Linked DNA regions of Homo sapiens: regions 1, 2 and 4 are each linked to region 3. Evidence: fine-mapped expression QTL. A gene starts in region 3. Each other region holds a variant in brackets. All regions are shown on one strand. Distances are between the middles of the regions.

Region 1 (2,682 bases), 280 kb before region 3:
TTCCACGGCCTCTTTTACTGGGAGACCTCTGAGTTTTGATGTGTCATGACAGATAGGAGAGGTCATATCCTTGTGATTTGTGGTTCATTGCTGGTGACATCAGAAAGTAAAGTCAACCAGGAAAAGACTCCATGGGCCTGGCTCAGGTGGCTTCTGGAGCACCACCTCCATCAAGGAGCTTTTCCTGGGGTCCATGTGTAGTCCATGTTGCCTGCTCTCCCACCCAGGGTTGCTGTGCTTATTATACAAGATGGCCAATAAAGCATGACATATATTCAATAAATGTTCATTTCTTTTTCCAACCCTTCTTATTTTAAGTTGAGGGTATTCATAAAAGGGATTGAGCATTTCCATTTATGGACGAGGCAACTGAGTACAGCCCCCAGGGGCACGCAGCGAGATGGCTGTCTGCTGAACCCATACACCAGCTCTCTAGGCGTTTGGTCCTGTGGGGACCGGTGCATCAGATGCTTCCTAAGCTGGCGTCACCTGCCTGGCCCGATGCCTCCTCTGGTGTTCATTGTTTAATTAATGCCACCTCCTGATGGCAGTTTCTTTCTGGGAAGAGGAGAAAAGAGAGCCGTCCCCAAGTGAAGGGTGCAGGGAAGCCTCCACGAATAGTTTCAACTAAGGACTGTCCCAGGAAGGAAACTCTTGGGATGGGCAAAGAACAGCGAACTTCCGGTGTGACCCGGATGCACCCATTTCCAGAGAGCAGGAAGCACAGAGAAGGCCCGTGGGTCGCCCTTGGGGTGCTTTCCATCCTGCAGGGCTCGCTGCCTGCCCTGAAAGTTCTGATAAAGACATAGGACCTTCATCACCAGGGGCGCCCCGTGGGCTGTTGCTGTAGCGTCTGTCCCCCATTTCTTACACACATTGAGTGTGATTGTTACCAGTGGAGGGTGTCCAATGGAAGAAGCACCAAAAGCCGAGATTTATTGAAAGTGGAAGGTACAGTCCACAAAGAGGGGGCGGGCCGAGCCTGGGGGCTGAAGAGCCCCTTTACAGAATTTTCTGGGGTTTAACTACTTTCTGGGGTTTAACTTTCTGGGGTTTAATTTTCTAGAGGTTTCCCATTGGTTACCTGGTGTACATCCTTTGTAAATACAGTAGTGGCCTGCAAGCAGTCTGATTGGTTGTGAAAAGCAACCAATTAGAGGCTGACTTGAAGTTACAAAGGTTACACCCTATGCAAGCATCTGTGGAAAGCAACCAATCAGAGACTAAAGTGAAGTTACAAAGTTACACTTGTATGCAAATGACGACTTGCCCTGCCGGGCTCCAGTAATCCCAGTACTTTGGGAGGCCAAGATGGGTGGATTACTTGAGGTCACGAGTTCCAGACCAGCCTGACCAATATGGTGAAACCCCCTCTCTACTAAAAATACAAAAAATTAGCCAGGTGTGGTGGCAGTTACCTGTAATCTCAGCTACTCGGGAGGCTGAGGCAGGAGAATCG[C/G]TTGAACCCGGGAGGCAGAGGTTGCAGTGAGCTGAGATAGCGCCATTGCACTTCAGCCTGGGCAACAAAGCAAGACCCTGTCTCAAAACAAAAACAAAAGGCCGGGCGTGGTGGGAGGCCAAGGTAGGTGGATAACCTGAAGTCAGAAGTTCCAGACCAGCCTGGCCAACATGGCGAAACTCCATCTCTACTAAAAATACAAAAATTAGTTGGGCGTGGTGGCGGGCACCTGTAGTCCCAGGTACTCGCGAGGCTGAAGCAGGAGAATCGTTTGAACCCGGAAGGCCGAGGTTGCAGGGAACCCAGAACGTGCCACTGCACTCCAGCCTCGGCGATAGAGCTAGACTCCGTCTTAAAAAAAGAAAAAAAAAAGTCCGGGGGCGATGGCTCACGCCGGTAATCCGGCCGAGGCGGGCGGATCATGAGGTCAGGAGATCGATACCATCCTGGCTAACATGGTGAAAACCCGTCTCTACTAAAAAACACAAAAATTAGCTGCGCGTGGTGGCGGGCGCCTGTAGTCCCAGCTACTCTGGAGGCTGAGGTGGGAGAATGGCGTGAACCCGGGAGGCGGAGCTTGCAGTGAGCCGAGATCGTGCCACTGCACTAAAGAAAAAGGAAAGGAAAAAAGACTTGGTCGCAGTCAGTCTGGGATTCGTTGCAGGAAGCAACCAATCAGAGGCTGAAGTGAAGTTACAATGTTACACTCCTGTGCAAACGTCTGATTGGTTGCAGAAAGCAACCAATCAGAGATACTTTGAATTTTCCATCTGGGACACAGAAAAAGTGGGGGTGGTGGTTTGCAAACTGAGTAGCCTCCCATCCTTTTGTTACTTAGGTGTGAAAAGTTGGGGTTTTCCTTTTGATTTAGTTCTAGGAAGTCAGCATGAATTGGCCTTAGGTTCCCTGCCTCCAGACCCTATTCTCCGGCCTCATGATGACTTGATGGCAGATTTATGGCGATTAAAGATGAGAAAAAGTGGTAACAGCAGTAGGCAGAAAATTGCCCTAGTTTCATGTTCTGACTGTGATAGTGGCAATATGACCTTGACAAATCACTGCATTTGTAAAATGAGAACACATCTCTGTTTTCTTTCGCTGGGGAATTAAAGGAAAAGTGAGATTATGAAGAAATACTATGAATTTTCAGAAATAATGAAAGTGTACGCTAAGTGAATGTCTAATTATAGAAACATATATGCCTTTGTTGTCCATTTCGCCTA
Region 2 (2,682 bases), 65 kb after region 3:
CAGATAGTCTCAACCCCACCCTCTCCCCTTGCTGCACTCAGAGTACCAGTGGGAGCTGAAGGATGGGGAGGAACAGAGCAGTGACCACCCCTCCCTGCCACTGATAAGTTCTGCCTCGTCGTGGGGCTCCCCTGGTTCCCAAGACACCCCTTCCTCCCTCAGCCCGTCGTCCTAACCCAGCAAAGATCTGGGCATTGCTGACTCTGCACCTCCTTCCTCCATGGGCATCTCCAGGACCGCCCTCCTTCAAGGGGCACTGCCCACACCACTGTCCTCAGCCCGAGGCATGCATCTGAGCTGGAGAGGCTTGCAGGCCTGACCCTGGTAGCTTCCCCTCCCCAAGATTCAGAGGCGGGGACCCAAAGCCTCACTCCAAACCACTGGCATTCTCACCTCCTCTCACCTCCAGGCACCAGGCTGCTGGTGGGAAAGGAAGGAGCTGGGGGATCAGAGGCTTCCAGTGTGGCCTCCGGAAGCAGCAGCGTAGCCAGGGTGACATTTGTTCAGCAGGAGGAGGCTTGGTCTGGAGGGGCTTGCCCCTCTGAGGTGACAGAGGATGCCCTGGAGGTCAGGAGAGAAGACTGGGAAGACAGGAAGGGCCAGGCCCCTGTTAAAGCCCAGGGCACTATTTGGTGATCTTCAAAGGTGAACACAGGCCACCTCCCACTGGCCCCCTCCTCCTGGCCACATTTTCCAGGGATACCCTGGGGAGTCCTAAGGCCACCCTGGGCCCCTTTCTGAGCCTAGAGATCTGGATGTGGTGACAACCAGGGCTTTTCCCAGCCCCAGCTAAGAGAGGGGGCTTTAGGGCAAGAGCACCTCAGCCCTGCAATGGGGGGATCTTTTTTTTTTTTTTTTTTTGAGACAGGCTGGAGTGCAGTGGTGCGATCTCGGTTCGCTGCAACCTCTGCTTCCCAGGTTCAAGTGATTCTCCTGCCTCAGCCTCCCAAGTAGCTGGGATTACAGGCACCCACCACCACGCTCGGCTAATTTTTGTATTTTTAGTAGAGACAGGGTTTCACTATGTTGGCCAGGCTGTTCTTGAACTCCTGACCTCAGGTGATCCGCCCACCTTGGCCTCCCAAAGTGCTGGGATTACAGGCATGAGATACCCCGCC[T/C]GGCCAATGGGATTTTTGACGCCACTTCCTGAGTGAAGCGCTTTGCATGGGGATGGGAAGAAGCACCCCCAACCTTCTAGTCCGCTCCGAGCAGGGCCTGGAGCATTGGAGACATTGGTTAGTGTAATAGGCAGAGCCTGAGTGAGGCCGGGGGGCTTCTCCAACAGAGAAAAGACATTGGCTTTGGGTACCATGCTGAGGGAGGGGGTTAGGCCTGGTGGGGGCCCATTCAAAGGAGGCCGGGCTCGGTGGCTTAGGCCTGTCATCCCAGCACTTTGGGAGACCAAGGTGGGAGGATAGCTTGAGGCCAAGATAGCAAGACCAACCTGGTCAACATAGCAAGACCCTGCCTCTACAAGAAAATAACGAAAGAGGCCCCAGGGAAGGAAGCCAGCCAGGAGCAGCCTGGAGCAGAGGCAGGAGCCTGAGGCCTGAGCCATGGCATCCAGGGACAGCCTGGTGGCCGAGAGAGCTTGTGGCTGTCACTATAAGGGAAGAGGAGCTATGGAAATTGGAAGTGCAGGGTGGCCTGTGTGCTAGGAGTGGGGGTGCAGGCCTAGGTGTGTTTATGCACACGTTTGTGCATGTACCTGTGAGCGTGGATGTGTTCCTATGCATTAGAGTGTGTGCGTGCACGTGTGCAGAGCCCACACCTGAGATATGGGACTGGCTCTTGGAGTATTTTGAGTTCTCAGTAGCAGTCTTGTTGTCAGGCCTTGAGTGCAGAAATGATTAGGTGAGTGAGGGCAGGACTCGAATGCAGACCCTGGCTCCAGGGGAGAGGGTGGGGCGTCTCTGGTAGGACGGCCTCACCCCACTTGTCAGAACTACTCTGGAGGGGGGCAAAGGTGTCAGGAACAGTTTGAGCAGTTCTGGCTCAGGGTCATTCATGAGGTTGCTGTTGTCTGAAATCTTAGCTAAGGATTGGAGGATGCACTTCTAAGTGAGGCCTGGCTGTAGGCAGGAGGCCTCAGTCCTTCCCCAGGTGGGCCAACCCACAGGGCTGCTTGAGTGTCTTCACAATATGGCGCTCGGCTTCCCCCCAGAGCAAGAGATTCAAGGGCCCAGGGTAAAAGCCAACGTGTTATTTTTATCCCTAGCCTCAGAATTCACACGCCGTTGCCTCCACCATGCTCTGGTTTGATACAGCCCAGCTCTGATTGGAAGGGGCTGGGGCTGCCCGTGCTGACTCTTCAAAGGCATCCCATCCTGCAGATGGTGTTCACAGGGAGAGTTTGTGGGGGCCGGCACTCCCTCATCTACTGGGGCTCATTCTGGAAGAAGGTCCAGAAGAATTGGAGACCCCTGCCCCTCACCCAAACTTTGGAGGTGGCAGGGTGAACAGCAGGCCAAGTTCAGGTCCCAAGACAGGCCAAGGCCAGTGCGGTTTCCCTTCCACTGCCTCAGTTTACCTGTATTCAGAAGACAGTCTAGGAAGAGTTGAGCAGAGTTCCCTCTAAAAGAGTAGGGAGCTGATAACAGTCCCAAGCCCTCCTCTTTCTCTATGCCAAAATCATTTCCGTTATCCTGAGATGGGGGTGAGTGGATGGATGGTGTACTGAGG
Region 3 (2,682 bases):
ACATTGCGAAAAATACAAATATTAGCCAGCCGTGGTGGCCAGCACCTGTAATCCCAGCTAGCTGGGAGGCCAAGGCACGAGAATCGCTGAACCAAGGGGGAGGAGGTTGCAGTAAGCCAAGATCGCGCCATGGCACTCTAGCCTGGGCGACAGAGCAAGACTCCATCTCGGGGGGGAAAAAAGAAAGTTAAAAAAAAAAAAAAATTAGCCAGGCATAACTGTAGTCCCAACTGCTGGGGAAGCTGGGGTGGGAGGATCTTTTAAGCCCAGGAGTTCGAGGCTGTAGTGAGCTATGATTGCGCCCCTGCACTCCATCCTGGCCAACAGAGCAAGACCCTGTCTCTAAAAAATAAATAAATAAAAGAAAAAGAGTAAAAGAAAATAAAGTGGGAGGGGGATATGCATGCTCTAAGATCTATCTACCACAGATTACAGGCTTTTCACCCTTTTGTGGAAATGACAAAACCTAGTATGTTCCTACCTAACAGAGGAGGGCTGAGGGAAGGTGAGGGAGCACAACTGCAATTTTCCCCTGAAAGAGAGTTCTCAGCCTGCCCTGGCAGATAGATCTCACCCATCGCGTCCCCAGATTACTCTGCCAAAGGTGGAAGCACCAATCACTTTAACCCAGAACATTTCAAAACCAGACAGCCATGAAGGAGGAACCTCTGTGGTCCCGGCGCGTGGGCCCTGGGGTTGGAAGTGCCTCAGACGCACTTTACATTTTCCCCGAATTCACCCTTCGCAGTCCCCATCACCCCCTCTCCAGTGGGATAAATGGCCACCTCATTAGCTCTGCACACATGACCCTCCCGACCTGACTCCTGGTGACTATGCCTGCCTTATCTCTTTTCTCTCCTCCCTCACATTTTCCGCTGCAACAAAGCCAAACACAGCACCGTGGGGGCTTTCACGCTTCTGTGCCCTAGGACACGCTGTTCCTGCAGCCTGGAAGGCCTCTGTCCTCCATCCGCGCGCCCTCACTCTCTTGCTACGAACTCCCATTCATCCTTCAAAACCCAGCCTGAGTGTCCCCTCCCCCGGGTCACCCCCTTTGACCTGTCAATCCCCTCCCTCCGGGTCCCCAGCAAGCTTTTCGGTTTGGCTTCTCTGCACTCTCATGACCGATTGCCCTACATCTTGGCGCTCCCAGACTCGGGCCTTCTCCAGCACCGGAGTCGTCTGGTTTGCTCGCTTTACACTCCAAGCACCTAGTACCGAGCCTGACTGGGTGCCAGAGGGCGCGCCTAGGCTCAGGCTGGCTCCACCCGCCCCGTGCCTCCCCTCGGCCTTCCCCTTAGTCCTGAGGGTGCCCGCGCTCCTGCATTTCCCGTGCACCGGGCTGCCGGTAGCTCCGGCCGCCCAGCCCCCGCGGCAGCAACAGCAGCAACAGCACCGGGGGAGCCCCCCCCCAGGCGGACTACAAGTCCCGGCAGGCCGCGCGCGGGCCGCGCATGCGCAGCGGGGACCGGCGTTTGAGTGGCAAGTTGTTTGTTACAGCGAACACCAGCTGCTCCCCGCGCCGGGCGCCGCGCGCCGCTGCTCCGCCGCTCGGCCCCTCGGCTGCTGCTCCGCCGGCGCTGCCTCCCTCGCCCCGCGGCTCCCCCTTGCAACTTGGCGGGCCTCCTCCCTTTTGTCCGGCCCGGCCCGGCCGCCGCCGCCCCCCGCGCCCGGCGCCGAGCTCCCGGGTCTCCGGGCCGGCTGTCGGTGCCGGCAGGGCGCGGAGGGGGCGGGGGCCGCGGCTCGTCCCCCCGCGGATGAGCCGCCGCGGACGGGGCGCGGGCGGACGATGGAACTCCACATCCTGGAGCACCGGCTGCAAGTTGCCAGCGTCGCCAAGGAGAGTATCCCGCTGTTCACCTACGGCCTGATCAAACTTGCCTTCCTGTCCTCCAAGACCAGGTAAGCGCGCGGGGACGCGGCGCCGGCCGGGGACAGACAAAGGGGGCGCACCCCGGGCCGCTGTCCTCGCCGCCGCGCCTCGGAAAACAACTTCGGGCCCCGGGAGCGCCCCCGCCCCGCCCCCGCCGCCGCTTCGCTCGCGTCTGACAAAGCCGGAGCCGCAGGGTCCTGGCTCCCGGACCCCTCGCAACCTTCCACCCCCCGGTGCGCCACCCCCCACCTCTGTCGTCCCCCCCATCTCCCACCCCCTCCCCCATCGCAGCCCCCTCCCCGAAATCCGGGGGGCTGGGGCGGCTGCAGTGACGGATCCGTGAATGGATGAAGGAACGAACGAATGAATGAATGAAAAACAGGTGTGGGGACGAGGCCGTGGAAAAAACAAACGCCCCCATCCCCCCATCCCTCGGTTGGGCCGGCCCCGTCGCCACGGCGGGGGGAGGGATTCCGCTGAGCGCGGTTACCCAGAGCAGAAAATCATAAAATCATTAGTGGGTGTTTATCTCAAGGTGCCTACGAGGCTTGCTGCGGACGGCCTGGAATTGCGGGGGGGAAACGGGGGGTGGGCGAGGGCCAGGGAGGGGCTGCAGAGGACGTGATTCTTTCTCCTTGGGGTCCTGGAAAGGGGGTGGGGGGGTGTTTTGCCCAACCGTAGAAGGGGAGGAGCAGGCATGTTTATGCATCTGCCTTGAGGCTGGGCTTGGATGCTGCAGGGGGAAAAATAGTTGAAGGCCTTGGAAGGTAAAAGAGGGAATCACACACACACACACACACACACACACA
Region 4 (2,682 bases), 590 kb after region 3:
AGCCCAGGCTGTATCAAACTCCTGGCCTCAAGTGATCCTCCCGCTTCGGCCTCCCAAAGTGCTGGGATTTTCAGACATGTGCCACTATGCCTGGCCTGTCTTATTATTATTATTTTTTAATTCCACATAGATGCATCCCTATTAAGTTTGAATGTTTGAGTCTTTATATAAAAGGAATCCTACTGTATATATTTTTCCATGACTTGATTTTTCACTCAACATTCTATGTGTGAGATTCATCCTAATACCTAGTAATTCTGATTCTATGTATATACTCTAGAGAAACTGACATGTGTGCATATATGATCATAGGGGCAAATTAATAACAACCCAAACTGGAAATAACCCAAGTGTCCATCACCAAGAGAACAGACGGATGAATTAAGCGATATTCACACAATAGATAATGAGAGAGCAGTGAAAATGAATTTATCTTCTTGGATTAATCTCACAGAATGTGGAGTGAAAAAGCCAGTTGTAGAAGAATATATACAGTAGGACTCCATTTACCTGTAGTCTATATCATGTGAAACTAACTCTATTATTTAGGGAGGCAAAGATGTAGATGATAATTTTTTTTTTTTTTTTTTTTTTTTTTGAGGCAGTGTCTCACTCTGTCGCCCAGGCTGGAGTGCAGTGGTGCAATCTCGGCTCACTGCAGCCTCCGCCTCCCAGGCTCAAAGGATTATCCTGCCTCAGCCTCTCAAGTAGCTGGGATTACAGGTATGTGCTGGGATTACAAAATTAGCCACCACAACTGGCTAATTTTGTATTTTTAATAGAGATGGAGTTTCACTATATTGGCCAGGCTGGTCTCAAACTCCTGGCCTCAAGTGATCCACCCACCTCAGCCTCCCAAAGTGCTGGGATTACAGGCGTGAGCCACCACACCTGGCCCTGATCTTTTTATTTTTTCTTTTTAGAGACAGGGTCTTACTCTCTCACCCAGGCTGGAGTACAGTGGTTCACTGCAGGTGAACCACTCTGCAGAGTACACTCTGCAATTCACTGCAGAGTACACGGTTCACTGCAGTCTTGAGCTCCCAGGCTTAGGTGATCCTCCTGCCTCAGCCTCCTGAGTAGCTGGGACCAAAAGTGCTCACCATCACACCCGGCCAATTTTTAAATTTGTTGTAGAGACAGGGCGCCACTAAGTTGCCCAGGCTGGTCTCAAATTCCTGGCCTCAA[T/C]TGATCCACCCACCTTGGCTGGATGTGGTCTTTTTATTATCTTCTTCTGGAACTCCAATTAGACAGTCTATCCTCATGGCTTTTATTTTTTATTTATTTTTTGAGTGGAGTTTCGCTCCTGTTGCCCAGGTTGGAGTGCAAAGGCACGATCTTAGCTCACTGCAACCTCAGCCTCCCAGGTTCAAGTGATTCTCCTGCCTCAGCCTCCTAAGTAGCTGGGATTACAGGCGCCTACCATCACGCCTGGCTAATTTTTTGTACTTTTAGTAGAGATGGGGTTTTGCCATGTTGGCCAGGCTGGTCTAGAACTCCTGACCTCAGGTGATCCACCTGCCTCGGCCTCCCAAAATGTTGGGATTACAGGCGTGAGCCACCGTGCCTGGCCCTATCCTTGTATCTTAACCAATATATTCCAATTCATAACACTGGGGAAAAAATGAAAAAAAACTGTACTGCATAGAAATGGTTTTCTTATTTTTCTTTTCCATAGAGTCCATGTCTTCTCTGTCCCTATATATACTTAACCCAATTTCTGGTATACAGGACATATTTATTTATAGCAGAGGCAGGGTCTCACTCTGTTGCCTAGGCTGGAGTGCAGTGGCACAATCATAGCTCACTGTGGCCTCCAAATCCTGGGCTCAAGCGATCCTCCTGCCTCAGCCTCCCGAGTAGCTGGGACTACAGGTGCGTGACATCACACCTGTCTAATTAAAAAAAAAATTTTATTTTGTAGAGACAGGGTCTCACTATGTTGCCTAGGCTGATATTGAACTCCTGGCCTCAAGTGATCCTCCTGCCTCGGCCTCCCAAAGTGCAGGGATTACAGGTGTGAGCCACCATGCTCGGCACTACATCTTTAGTAAATGAATGAACACAGTGTTATTTCCATTTTGGGTATTACCTGCCCACCTAGATAAAAATCCTCAGAGACAGGGGAGCTGCCTATACTTCTTTGATATTGCCTAGTGTAATGATGACAACATAGTAGATTCTCAGCTAACAGCCAGTGAATTAAATATAGCTGGAAAGTCCTTCAGGAGGTTTTTCCTTTTTAAATTTTTTTTTTTTTAATTTTTAAAGAGACAGGGTCTCATTTTGTTGCCTAGGCCTGTCTCAAACTTCTGGGATCAAGTGATCCTTTTTTTTTTCGAGATAGATCTCACTCTTATGCCCAGGCTGGAGTGCAATGGCATGATCTCGGTGCACTGCAACCTCCACCTCCTGGGTTCAAGCAATTCTCTTGACTCCACCTCCCAGTACCTGGGATTATAGGCATGCACCACTATGCTGGGTTGATTTTTGTATTTTTAGTAGAGACAGGGTTTCACCCTGTTGGCCAGGCTGGTCTCTAGCTCTTGACCTCAAGTGATCTGCCCACCTCAGCCTCCCAAAGTGCTGGGATTACAGGCGTGAGCCATCCCGTCTAGCCTCAAGTGATCCTCCTGACTCGGCCTCCCAAAGTGCTGGGATTACACGCATAAATCACTGCAC

The links.
Region 1: its variant is fine-mapped to the expression of CASTOR2 in whole blood (INTERVAL, PIP 0.96).
Region 2: its variant is fine-mapped to the expression of CASTOR2 in lung (TOPMed, PIP above 0.99). The same link has a PIP of 0.9 or more in caudate, cerebellar hemisphere, cerebellum, esophagus mucosa, esophagus muscle and fibroblasts.
Region 4: its variant is fine-mapped to the expression of CASTOR2 in whole blood (INTERVAL, PIP above 0.99).

The regions. Positions count from the first base shown.
Region 1 is chr7:74,683,954-74,686,635 of GRCh38, forward strand. The region is part of intron 1 of GTF2I (general transcription factor IIi); the gene reads left to right. Among named protein-coding and RNA genes, the nearest start is that of GTF2I, 28 kb to the left of the region's middle. The variant C/G (reference allele first, on the strand shown) is at 1,460.
Region 2 is chr7:75,028,521-75,031,202 of GRCh38, forward strand. It overlaps CASTOR2 (cytosolic arginine sensor for mTORC1 subunit 2), which reads left to right. Exons shown (of 9, transcript NM_001145064.3): 9 at 1-2,682. It also overlaps a transcript of RCC1L not described here. Among named protein-coding and RNA genes, the nearest start is that of RCC1L, 44 kb to the right of the region's middle. The variant T/C (reference allele first, on the strand shown) is at 1,119.
Region 3 is chr7:74,963,197-74,965,878 of GRCh38, forward strand. CASTOR2 (cytosolic arginine sensor for mTORC1 subunit 2) reads left to right here and starts at 1,509. Exons shown (of 9, transcript NM_001145064.3): 1 at 1,509-1,902. The coding sequence starts at 1,790. RefSeq lists a silencer at 1,247-1,356.
Region 4 is chr7:75,550,618-75,553,299 of GRCh38, forward strand. All of the region lies in intron 22 of HIP1 (huntingtin interacting protein 1), which reads right to left. Among named protein-coding and RNA genes, the nearest start is that of SPDYE5, 60 kb to the left of the region's middle. The variant T/C (reference allele first, on the strand shown) is at 1,189.